Homo sapiens: one gene and its partners. The protein of the gene in region 3 interacts with the protein of the main gene of each other region in a biochemical or structural test. Each region holds a gene or a part of one and is shown on either strand. Other genes may lie near its edges.

The links.
Region 1: the proteins of MARK3 (region 3) and POLI form a complex in vitro, tested with the Homo sapiens proteins (one large-scale study listed by BioGRID).
Region 2: of the proteins of MARK3 (region 3) and KSR1, one has a biochemical effect on the other in vitro, tested with the Homo sapiens proteins (2 studies listed by BioGRID).

What each region holds. Positions count from the first base shown.
Region 1 is NC_000018.10:54,279,503-54,283,725, reverse strand, and holds part of POLI (DNA polymerase iota isoform a (long)), read right to left. Parts: intron 3,060-4,223; coding exon 2,823-3,059; intron 890-2,822; coding exon 711-889; intron 1-710. UniProt on the Homo sapiens protein: Error-prone DNA polymerase specifically involved in DNA repair. Plays an important role in translesion synthesis, where the normal high-fidelity DNA polymerases cannot proceed and DNA synthesis stalls. Favors Hoogsteen base-pairing in the active site.
Region 2 is NC_000017.11:27,459,434-27,463,656, reverse strand, and holds part of KSR1 (kinase suppressor of Ras 1), read right to left. Parts: intron 1-4,223.
Region 3 is NC_000014.9:103,391,316-103,396,237, reverse strand, and holds part of MARK3 (MAP/microtubule affinity-regulating kinase 3), read right to left. Parts: intron 1-4,922. UniProt on the Homo sapiens protein: Serine/threonine-protein kinase. Involved in the specific phosphorylation of microtubule-associated proteins for MAP2 and MAP4. Phosphorylates the microtubule-associated protein MAPT/TAU. Phosphorylates CDC25C on 'Ser-216'.

The sequences.
Region 1 (4,223 bases), on a different chromosome or scaffold from region 3:
AATATTACTGTATTAACAGTTAATATAAAACAGTTAATATAAAATAATTCAAAGTTATGAAAACTCTAAAGCTCTAGTACCAACTCCAAGCTTTATTGTATGATTATGGCAAGAGTTCTTAATCACCTAGGACTTGAATCTAAGTTTATCCTTGGACAAGTTATTTAACCTTTCTAAAGTACGGTATCCTCATCTTGAGAGAGAGAGAATGGAAGGAAGGAAGGAAAGAAGAGAAGTAAGAAGGAATGGACAAACAACAGTACTACCTACCTTGATGCTTTGTTGTGAAGATTAAATGGACTAACATATTTAAAGCACTCAGTAAAGTGCTTGTCCCATAGCAAAAAAATCAGTCAATGTTAACTGGGTGATTATACCTTTCCCATTTGCTAAATCACTGGACTACTCTGAAAACAAGATTTTTAACAGATTAAAATATTTTGCCTCATATATGCATTATAGGCTATTAAAATTAAGTTGCACTGTCTTCAATCATAGTAGCTAACTTAAGATATCAAAATATCAATGCTTAAGATTCCATTTAAGAATACTTATTAATCCAATCTATTAATAATAAATCAGCCTTCTAATAGGAAAGGGATCACATACTAAGCAAACTAGAATAGTAAGAACATGGTACTAAAACTAGAAATCTTTATCTCAAATAATGTGATAACCAGTACTTAATTAAAATAAGTATCATCATGTACCTGAGGTGGTCCTGAGAGTATCACAGGGGAGTTATCCTCTCCAAAACTGAGCTTTTGGATACGCTGAGCAACTGAAATTCCTAATTCTTTTTCTAAAATTTTGGGTGAAAAGGTTTGGAGATCACGCACACTATTGATACCCAGTGCTTCAAGACATTTGGCAGTTTTATAGCCAATACCTAAATAAAAAGAAATGCATACAATGTTAAAATAGCTTTTCTCCTTAAAACAAAGCTAATTAAAATATTATAAATATATCAATCTTATCTTTAAGTTCTATAATTTATACAGTAGTCCCCCCTTATCCACAGGGGATACATTCTAAGACCTTCAGTGGATGCCTGAAACCATGGACAGTATCAAACCCTATATATACAGTACTGTTTTTCCCATTACATATATACCTATGATAAAGTTTAATTTATAAATTAGGCACAGTAAGAGATTAACAATAATAATAAAACAGAACTATAACAATATACAATATACAAGTTATGTGAATGTGGTCTCTGCCTCTCTCTCTCAAAATATCTTATTATTTTCAGACCACAGTTGACTGCAGGTAATAGAAACTGTGAAAAGTGAAACTGCAGATAATGGGGGACTACTGTATTTTGCAAAGATCAAACCCCATTGCAAACTAGGTTGCTGTTCTTCCACTCAGGGCTCCTGAATTATATGCACCTCTTTGAAGTCCTCACAAAATGCAGTAAAATAAAATGAATACAGAGACAGCCAATAAATGCTGTCTTACTAAAACAAAAATTTTACCACCTGTTATGTAATATTCCAGAAATATTCAGAAATCATGATTATTATTAATATACAAAAAGGCTGCCACTAGAGCAATTAAAATAAATTAAGTGTACATATTAGGTAACCTAACTGATTCCTATACGCACCACCACACATTTATCCATAAGTCATATCTAACATTTACCATCCAGAATACAACTATGAGCCAGAAAGCAAACAAACAAAAAATCTTGCTAGCAAAACTGTCACAAAGTTCTTGCACTAAAATTCGGTCATACTTTATTCACAAGAGAAAACAGGCTATTTAATGTCTCCTTATTCTTTTCATTCAAAAACAGTAATTCCACAGTTATCTGGTTTTCTTGCACAGTAAAAGCAGTAAGTTGGAGGAGATGGCTATGTAGGGGGAACTATTAAAGTAGAGTGACAGATTTTTCACAGCAGAAAAAAAAGAAGGTTGGCAATTTGGCAATAAGTGAGAAAGGAGAAAGCCTGTTAAAAAAAAAAAAAAAAGATACAAGAACTCGAAAGTAAAGCCAAGTAAGAATGTTTTGCACCAGTATATAGTCCTCAGTTTATTACAACCTGACATTGTTCTTCAGAATGCACTACCAAAGTCATCCAAAAAACTTCAAATTATAGTTATACTATACTAAGGAAGGCAAGGCAGTGTATAATACATTTTGGAATCACGCAAGTATCAGTTAAAAATGTGAAGTATGACATCTAAGTTTCAGTGGTATTAGAAATTCACTTCCACAGAACTCTTTTATAACATCTTATTCCCTAGCAATACCACAGAAATGTAGTTCAACATATTGATGGCCTATAAAAACTTGGGTATTTAATCTTCAAAGATACAAACTTGCCCCATGACCTAAATAGGTCACCGAACTCCTCATGGAAATCAGTTTCCTAATCTTTAAAATGAGGACCTTGGCCTAGATGTTTTGGAAAGTCCATTGTAGCCTTAATATTTTATATGTAATCCCAAAAGAGTTAGTAAAAGACGAACTCCCCTCTCTAGAGGCAATGTACAGTATAAGAGTATGACCCAGGGACTGGAAATAAAGGACCATATGTTTCTAGGCTATAACTTTCATGACCATATTCTAACCATACAAAAGTAGATAAAATAAGAAAAGTACCTTCACATATTTCTTAATCCAAATTTGCTTGAGAAAACATTACAGTTTTTCTTAGTTTTTTCCAGGAACCAAGTATACACACACACACACATGCACACAAACTCACAGACAACTCTACCTAAGAATTAATTACATTGTATCTATAATTTTTTAAATTAAAAGAAATAAAATAAGACGTATATGTACTTTTCAAATATATTTGTCTTACCAGGTATTTCCTTTATGTGATTCAAACTATGAATAAGATGTTGACAACTTTCAGGTAATAAGACTGTTTGTTGATTTGGTTTAAAGACACCAGAAACTAATTTTGCCAACAGTTTATTAGAAGCCACTCCAGCACAGCCAGTGAGCCCCAACTGATTATACATGGCTTCCCGCATCTCTGCTGCAATCTGAGATCCAACAAGTAGTCTGATGTGCAAGACGTCAAGCAGGTTTATAGCTTTAAAAACAACAAATGTCATTCAAAGTCACAAGAAAAACCTTTTTCTTTTTCACAAAATAATTTTTAAAAGGTAGAGGGCTTAGTCTATATCCAACAACCACCACCACCACAACCACCACCATCATCACCTGGTATGGTTGTGATATTTGTCCCCTCCAAACCTCATGTTGTAATTTGATCCCCAGTGTTGGAGGTGGGGTCAAATGGGAGGTGTTGGGATCACAGGGGTGGATCCCTCATGAATAGATTAAAGCCCTCCCTCAGGGGTAAGTTTCTGACTGTATTAGTTCCAAAGACAGCTGGTTGTTAAAAGAGCCTGGCACCTCCCCCAGCCCTTGCTTCCTCTCTCACCATGTGATCTCTGCACACACTGGCTCCCTTTTGCCTTCCACCATGAGTGGAAACAGCCTGAGGCCCTCACCAGAGGCCTAACCTTGACTTTTCCAGCCACAAGAATCATGAACCAAATAAACCTTTTTTTCTTTATAAATTACCCAGTCTCAGGTATTCTGTTAAAGCAACACTAAATGGACTAAGAGATCACTGCCACCCTGTTATCCACTTGACTAATCTCTTTCATGCTTCATAGGAATACTGTAAACAAATTCAATAAGCAAATTCCAAGGGCCTGTGATAGTGACTGTGTAGTGGGAGTGCTTAATAATTAACACATTGTGAAAACTGATCTCATAAAAAAATTCCTACTGACATTGGCAAAACTTTTACTCATATTTACCCGTAAGTAGGCATAGAAGTATTATTATATAACAAGAAAGCTAACATTATACTTTAAAGATCTAAATCTTAACCACGCACTAGCAGTATATGCTGCTAGAAACAATCTCTGACCTGTACACAGTTTTAGAGCTCTTTTATGAAAAGTGTAAGAAAATTATATAAAAATAAATTTGCTTTAGGTGTAAAACAGTGTTGGAATGACATGAAACCATCCTAACCTCAAAGAGACTAACGCTAAAAGTATTTAGAGATGAAATGTCAGGATGTCTGCAATTTACTTCCAAATAGCTCATCAACCAACCAAGCAATCCATAGAGAGAACAAGAGAAAGCAAATGTGGCAAAACGATAACAACTGGTTTATCTACAAGAAAGGACATAATGGGCCAGGAGTAGTGGCTCATGCCTATAATCCCAGCACTTT
Region 2 (4,223 bases), on a different chromosome or scaffold from region 3:
TTCTAATTGGTCAGCCCAGGGGGCCCCCCTTTGCTGCAGGTAACCACAAAAACTAGAAGCCACAATGCCTGACACATAGCCCAGAACCTCAGACACAAGCAACCACAAAACTAGAAGCCATAGTTCCTGACACTTATCCCAGAATCTCAGCCAGAGGACCATGTCCAGCCTCTTTTTTTTTTTTTTTTTCTCTGTCATCCAGGCTGGAGTGCAATGATGCAATCTCAGGTCACTGCAACCTCCACCTCAGCCTCCTGAGTAGCTAGAACTACAGGAGCGTGCCACCATGCATGGCTAATTTTCTATTTCTTGTAGAGACGGGGTTTACCATGTTGCCCAGGCTGGTTTCGAACTCCTAGACTCAAGCTATCCACCAGCCTCAGCCTCTCAAGGTGCTGGGATTACAGGCATGAGCCACCGCACCCAGGCCCAGCCTCCTTTTAAACTCTTGGCCGTCAGTGTGATTACAGATGCAGTGGCAAATGGATAAATGTATGAAGGCTGCCATTCCTGCTTAGGAGAGGGGGAGTTATGATGCCATAAAGATATTAAAGACGAGGACAGATATTAAATGTATTCATATACTTTGACCCAGCAAATCTCACTTGTAGGAAGATACTCGTTGCAGCACCATTTATAAAAGCAAGACTTGGAAACAGCCTGAATGGCCCACACAGGGAAACCGGTTAGATGAATTTGTGGTATGACCACACAATGCAGCCACTAATAGTGCTGATGCATATGTATATGTGCTGATACAGACAGAAGACATTTACAAGGCAATGCACATGGTATGTGCCACAAATATACACATGTACATTTATATGCAAATGCAGGAAGAATATACAACAAAATGTGCACTGGAATTAACTCTGAGAGGTGGCATTATGGGTGATTTTCACTGTTGTACATCTAGTACTTTCTTTTTTATAGTGAACATATATCATTATGTATTTTGTAAATATTTTAATTAAAAGTAGAAAGTTAAAGAATACACTGTTTATCAGAGGAACTGTTCAGAAAGAATAAGACAGGTAGCCATTTAAAAAATTATGAGTAAACTGATCTCTAGGCAGCTTCTCCTTTCTCAGAATGAGACAAGCGTAGAGCGGGCTGCATCATGGTGCTGAGAGTCCTGTCTTTGAGGATGTGCTAGCCTGGACATTAGGGAAGCAGACCCATGCCCGAACCCTGAGGCTGCACAGCCTGGGTGGCCACCAGGAAGCCCAAACATCTAGAGTTGAGCCACGGAATGCCCTCGGCCCAGCCCTTTTTATTATTGGCCATTTCCTTGGTCTCAGCAACCATGGCCCTGCACAGAATCTCCCCGCCACAGCAACAGCTGTGGAGTTCTGAACATAAGTTCTCAAGACCAGTCAACCTGGGTTCAACCACCTGCTAAGACAGTCTCTCCATCCCTCTGAGCTGCAATTCCCTCATCTGCAACATCAGGATAAGGCCTCATAGCATCATTGTGAATGTTAAGGTGCAACATATGCCGAGAGCCTAGTGGAGTGCTCAACATAGAACAGGTGATCAAGCACGTTCTTCATCTGTGTCTGCCCTCTCTACTCCAAGATCATTCCCCTAACCCCAAAGGCACCTATGCAGCTTTCCCTTTGAATTAAACATAAAAAAGAGATCTCAACCAGCCTCTTCTGAAAGGATGGCCTTTTAAAAAGGCATAGCTTAGAGAGACTTGGCCACAGGCTTTGCTGCTTCTCCCCGGCATTGCAGACACTGCCACCGTGGGCCAGCGTCTCCGCATGGTCCATCTCCAGACACACCCAGCGGGCAGGAGTAGAATACCTGCGGCGCACTTTCCTGGATTTTGAGGCAGCCCAGACCACTCCAAGAAGAGGAAACAACCCTGACGTGGAAGAAGGCATTCCCATAGCTGCAGGCAGCAAACCACACCTCCAGATCTGATAAGACCTCTCTCCAGCACCACCCAGCCCTCCCCAGGCTCACAGCCACTGCGGGTCTCCCTCCAGGCTGCCTCTAAGAAACATTTGGGAGGTAGGTTTCACCAGGGAAAAAGTTACCCGGGTGAAAGTGGACACAAAAAAGGGCCAGAGCCCCAGCTCTGTATCTCTTCAGAGACGGCTGGAGCCACTTGGCCAGAGGGTTACAACTGTGGCCACAGAGCAGAAGCAGAGAAACGCCACACTTTGAGACAGTGGCTGGGTGGGAAAGCAAAACCAGGTTTCAGTCTCAGTTCTGCCAGGGACCTGTGACTTGGGAGAAGTCCCCAAGACTCTGGGAATATTTCCCAGAAAACCAGGAGGTGGCTCACACTTGTAATCCCAGCACTTTGGGAGGCCAAGGTGGGTAGATCACTTGAGGCCAGGAGTTCGAGACCAGCCTGGCCAACACGGCAAAACCCTATCTCTACTAAAAACACGAAAATTAGCTGGACATAGTGGGGCATGCCTGTAATCCCAGCTACTCAGAAGCTAAGGCAGGAGAATTGCTTGAACCTGGGAGGCTGAGATTGCAGTGATCCGAGATCATGCCACTGTACTCCAGCCTGGGCGACAGAGTGGGACTCTGACTAAAAGAAAAACAAAAACAAAAACAAAAAACAAAACAAAACAAAAAAACCAGGAGGTTGGATGGGCCAAGGGTTCAGTGGGGTTCCCAATGCAGGGTCCTGCAAGCTGTGCTACTAAAGTCATTACTGTGCCCTGCCTGGCTCCTTCACTAGACTAGAACTGTCCCTAGACCCCAAAGACTGGGAGAACAGCCCACCTACTTCAGAGCCCTTGCTAGGTGGCTGCCAGCCAGGTAAGCACATCAACAGTAACTAAAGGTCTGTCCAGGGAACGTGCCTCAACACACCCTAAGGACCCAATCTGCAGGAATGCCACCCCTCCCCTCTCCCAGCAGTTCCATCATCAGATGCTCCTGGGAGGCATAGGGAGAGCTCAGGTCCCCCACACGGTGGGACTCTGACCTCTGCCACGGCAGAGCTGTGTGAGGGCCAGGCCTCTCTGACCTTCCAGATGGCAGGAGGGCCTCCCCTCTGACCCCCTGCGGCTCCAGGGCAACTGCTCAGGAAAGCAGCCCAAGGGCAGAGACTGTACCTACCACAGTTCCCAACATCGCCTCCCAGCACAGCCTGACTCTGCACCTACCACAGTTGCCAACATCACCTCCCCCAGCAAAGCCTGATGGTCAAAGTCCTTCAGCCCCTTTCTCCACGCCAGCTTGCTTAGGAGGGATTTTTCTCCACAAGAACACAAGGTGGGGAGACTCAGCATGGCAGAGCCTGTCTCTGGAAAGTACTAGTAGGCTGGCAGGAAAGGGCAAGTCACAATGTCCCTGGAACATAAATCTCCATGAGGCAACATGTGTCTGCTTCTACACACCCTTGTCTCCCCAGCGCTGGGCAGATTCAAAGGAATGAAGGTAATTATTACTGGCATAGGTTGCAGGCCCAGCTATTAGGCAGGCCAAGTGTCCCTCTGTGAGTACACTGGGGCATAAGAACATTCCCGTTTGCCTCGGTGGAGTTTTCAGACCCCTAGGAGGGTCTAGCGGAGACAGAACACCAGCTCCTGCCAGGATGAAGTAGCCTCACAACTTCTGTTTACAGATTAATACCCTGGTTTCAAATTGTGCCTCCCTCCCTTTATATTTAGAGAGGGAAAATGTGTATGATGAAAACTGCTGATCTCCAGGAACGTGTGTGAGTTTGAGAAGAGTCAGGCACGCTGCTAGGCACACAGGCAGCAAACGTTAAGTCTCAGCTCCTTCTACCCTTTTCCATCCAAACTGGACCACCACACAGAGAAAAGCTATCCCCGGACAACCAGACACGCTGACCCACTACACCCCATCACAACCCAATTTCAGGCAGCAGCAGCCCATCCCTGGTCAGGGACCTCCACGGACATTTCACGTGCTGCTTCTCCCACTGAGTGTTTATTTAATGAAGGCCAGAGTGAGCTGGGGCTCCTCAGATTCTAGATAAGTCCGATGCAGTTGCACAGGCCAAGCCCTCCAGGTCAGATCCTTCTTCAAAAGCCAGGAATCCAGTGTTGCAAGCACAGTCTCTGGGGCCACGGCCTGGTGTGTGGGGAGCCCACAGAACAGGAAAGAACGCTGGAGTGGACACTGCCACTTGCCTGCCTGGCCCCAACACATGCTGCTGGCGGTGGACGGTCCCACCCAGCTTGCTGAGATTGTTTCCTGGCTTGTGTCACCCACCTGTATGAAAT
Region 3 (4,922 bases):
TAGAAGTGTGAGTGAAGTAAGCCTGAAACAAGAAGATCTATCAGTCTGTTAAATAACAGACCCCCGGGTCTCCTCTCCCACTCAGGCAAAAAACTGGAGGTTCTTTAGAAAGGGCAAAATGGAAAGTCTCTGGGCTTGGGGACACAGGGCACAACTGAGGGCAGGGACACTGAAAACAAGCAGAGAAAGCAGAAAGCCACAGATCTTTCCTTCTGCCCTCTCCCGACTCAGCTCCCTGGAACATGGGCATTCCGTGCTTGCCTAGGCCAAGTGATAAGACTAAATATATTGGTATCAAGAGCACCACAAAGAAATAACAGTGTGTCCCACTGTTGTATTCAAGATCCATCCAAATGCACAAAACTTCCAATCAGCCTTAAACAAACAGAAAAATAAGCAAGACTCAAAATAGCATTCTCTCTCTCCAAATCGGAGTGTCAGATGCTATATAAGACAGAAAACAAAATTCTGAGGAAAAAGGGCATTCAGTCTAGAATTCTATATGCAGCCAAAATATCAATCAAGTATGAGAACAGAATAAAGATGTTTGCAGATATGAAAGGATTTTAAAAATTTACCTCTGAGCAACTTTCTCAGAAAATCACTGGAGGAACTGCTGCAATGAAACCTGGGAGTGAACCAAGGGGAAGAAAATGGATCGAACAGGAAAGGCAAAGGGAATCCCTAGGATATGGGTGAAGGGAGATCTCAGGATGACAACTATGCAGCAGAACAGACAGACAGAACACAAGGCCAGCCTGACAGAGATGAAAGTGACTGAATGCCTGATGAATCTGGCCACAGAGGAAATTGAGAAAGTGAAGTCATAAAAATCTAAGTAAACAAACAAAAAAACCAAGACACAACTTGAATGATGTTATTCTCTTTTGATTTAAAAAAAAAAAAACCATGAGGCACAGCCGAGTGAATTTGTCCACAGTTAAATCTCAAGACTAGTTTCAAATTCCAGTCTATAACTCTAAATTCTAATTTCTCCTTTTATATGTTGTTCCTTCTTTTTTGCTCCATCTTATGAGGTCCATTCTACCTCTTCAGAATCTTTATCTCGATCAGTCTTAGACTCTCATTTTTGTCTTCCACTTTCAAGCCCAGACTCTTTCCATCACACATCCCTTCAGGAAAGTAGTGTAAGATTGTGGCCAGGCGCTGTGGCTCATGCCTATAATCCTAGCACTTTGGGAGGCCGAGGCAGGTGGATCACTTGAGGTCAGGAGTTCAAGACCAGCCTGGCCATGGTGAAACCCCGTTTCTACTAAAAATACAAAAATTAGCCAGGCGTGGTGGCGGGTGCCTGTAATCCCAGCTACTCGGGAGGCTGAGGCAGGACAATCACTTGAACCCAGGAGGCAGAGGTTGCAGTGAGCCAAGATCATGCCACTGCACTCCAGCCTGGGCAACAGAGCAAGACTCCATCACAAAAAAAGAAAAAAGACTAGAGTTATGTAAAATTCTATGAACAAAACCTGTGAATTCAACTTCTCTGATTTTATATTAAATTCTACCAATACAGATTTTTGTGTCAAATGTCCATACACAAACCCCACAATATTTAGGTCCAACAAAAAGCAAATGCCTGTCAACAAGAAATACAGAAAAAACACCTGCTTTGTTTGAGCTTCAACACTGAACTTCAAGGTCCCACATAACCCACAGAAACAATGTCTTATCTAGTGCACACAGAAGTACACAAGACCAACCATAGTTGAGCAGCTTGAGTGGCTAGAGTGTAGTGCTAGCGAACTCTCGGCTGAAGACAAAATTGGATGCCCCTCCCACCTCCAAAAAAAGGCCTTTTCTTTCAAAGCCAACTTCTGCCCTTCCAATTGTTCTGTACAAGCAGGTGCAGACGGGTGAGTACAAATTCCTTATTACTTTTGCAGACCAACTCCAAGCACAACCTTTAACTTCTTGTGTGAGACAGGACATTAAAGCTTCCCAGGTAAGAGATTTATTTTCTCCTTCATGTTTAATTTGAAATTTGAAAATGGATATGAGACAAATGAATTTTCTGCTTTAGTCCTCCCAGTGGTGATCAGAGGGTACTGCATTCCCTGACTCCTTTTTCTTTTTTAACCAAAGCCACAAGTCACGGAATATTCCCTGACTCTTACTAGGAATTTGTTCCAGCCCAGGAAAAAATTCCAGGCATAAAATTTGGCTATATCTTAGAATAATAAAATGCAGGCCGAGCGCAGTGGCTCAAGCCTGTAATCCCAGCACTTTGGGAGGCCAAGGCAGGCGGATAACCCAAGGTGAGGAGTTTGAGACCAGCCTGGCTAACATGGTGAAACCCCATCCCTACTAAAAATACAAAAAATTAGCTGGGCATGGTGGTGTGTGCCTGTAACCCCAGCTACTTAGGCTGGCAGGCGGAGGTTGCAGTGAGCCAAGGTCACGAGATTGCACTCCAGCCTGGCAACAAGAGTGAAACTCTGTCTCAAAAAAAAAAAAAAAGTAATAAAATGCAGAACAATCCTCTTTGCAATCAAATAGTTAATATTAATTTTTATTAGACTGTATAAGCCTCTATGTAATTACAATGTAAATCATGCACCATGTAAGTCTAAATAGTTATACAATGTATATATCATGAGCTACATAACTTAAATGACCAAAATTCTATTTACTGCAAATTTCAACCTTTACCTCATTTACATACATAAGATAAGGATGCTCAAATTGAAGTCTATAAGATCTTTCCCTGAAAACTGACTAAATATTTTCATGAATTCTTCAGAGATCAACTTTTTTTTTTCTTTCTTAAGATACATAGTTTCACCATGTTGTCCAGGTCGACTGGAACTCCTGGCCTCAAGTGATCCTCTGGCCTTAGCCTCCTGAGTAGCTGAAACTATAGGCCAACTTTTTTCTGATAAGGCCCAAACAGCTTGATTCAACAGGTTGTGCTTAGAAGTTGACAAGCTGATTAAGCCGGGGCACAGTGGCTCACGCCTGTAATTCCAGCACTTTGGGAGGCCGAGGAGGGAAGTGGGAGGATCATGAGGTCAGGAGTTCCAGATCAGCCTGCCAACATGGTGAAACCCAGTCTCTACCGAAAATACAAAAAAATCAGCTGGGCATGGTAACAGGCACCTGTAATCCCAGCTACTCGGGAGGCTGAGGCAGAATTGCTTGAAGCCAGGAGGCGGAGGTTGCAGTGAGCCAAGATCATGCCACTGCACTCCAGCCCGGGCAACAAGAGTGAAACTCTGTCTCAAAAAATAAAATAAAATTTAAAAATTAGCTGGGTGTGGTGGCGGCTGCCTGTAATCCTAGCTACCTGGGAGGCTGAGGCAGGAGAATCGCTTGAACCCGGGAGGCGGAGGTTGCAGCGAGCGAGATCGTGCCACTGCACTCCAGCCCAGGTAACAGTGTGAGACTCCGCCTCAGGAAATTTAAAAAAAAAAAAAGCTAATTAAATAAAACCATATTACATATTTTAAATGAGATACTCTACAAAGTATTGCTGGCTGGTATACAGTTAAGTGATCACCAAATGGCAACTATTGTTATTTTCCAGAACCACAATTTTTAATAAACAGTTTTTTTTAAACTCATGGAACCTGAAAACTCAATTAAATGGTCTGGAAATCTTCCTTTGATAGTCACAGTACAATCTAAAAGGAGTATAGTTTAGTTAGCAAGCCTTCACTGCACACTAAGGCAGTGATTTTTTTTTCTTAATAAATAAACATCAGAAATTCCTGCTATAGTGATTCTTAAGAGTGGTCCCCGGACCTGGAGCATCAACATCACCTGGCAACTTGTTAGAAATTCCAATTCTACGGGTAAAATCAAGGTCTAGGGGTAGGGCCCAGTGATCACGGTTCTAAAGCCCTTCAGGTGATTCTAATGTTTGCTTAAGTTTGAGAGTTACAGACTAGTTTCATAAAGCTCAGGCTGCTTTGTCCTGCAAGGAGCAGGAAATCCTAAAGAGCAGGAAAGCTATGTGTCCCAGGTATATGGCCTCTACAGCACCTAGCACAGTATCATACACACGGTAGGCATTCACACTTGCTGAATAGGTTAATTCAGTCTCACATAACCGATGACTGACTAGACAACAGCATCATCAGTTTCACAGAGGTCAGAAATTTGGGGGACTATTTGCATTAACTAATAATAAGTACATGATGCACACATATCAGTAACTGTTAAATAACTGGGAAAGCCCTGGGCCTCTGGTACTTTGGCCAATAACATTACCAGGCTTACGAAGTGTCATATCCTTTGAAATTCAGGTGAAAAATATGTTTCTCATTTTGCCAGTATAGAAAAAGGATGTATCCGTGGCTCCATATAACTATAGAACATAAACTGAAATGCAAACTGTTTGGTTGCCTTTAAAAAGCATATTTTGACCAGGTACAGTGGCTCACGCCTGTAATCCCAGCACTTTGGGAGGCCAAGGCGGGCGGATCACCTGAGGTCAGGAGTTTGAGAACAGCCTGGCCAACATGGCGAAACCCCATCTCTACTAAAAAAAAAAAAAAAAAAAAAAAAAAAATAGCCAGGCATGGTGGCGGGAGCCTGTAATCCCAGCTACTCGGGAGGCTGCGCACGACAATCGCTTGAACCCGGGCGGCAGAGGTTGGCAGTGAGCCGAGATTGCACCACTGCACTCCAACCTGGGCGACAGAGCAAGACTCCATCTCAATTAAAAAAAAAAAAAAAGCATATTTGACATATCAGCCAACTATAATGTATGAATTCAAGCTGGATTCTAATTTGAACAGTTTAAAAATTAGAAATGTGAGAAAATTTAAATACTGCATATTTGATATTAAGAAAATATGATAAAAGTATTGCTTTTTTCTTAAAACAGGCTTTATCTCTTCTAAAAGCTTTAGAGAGGAAATGATACTGCATTTGCTTCTTCATTTATAAATGAAATAAGATTG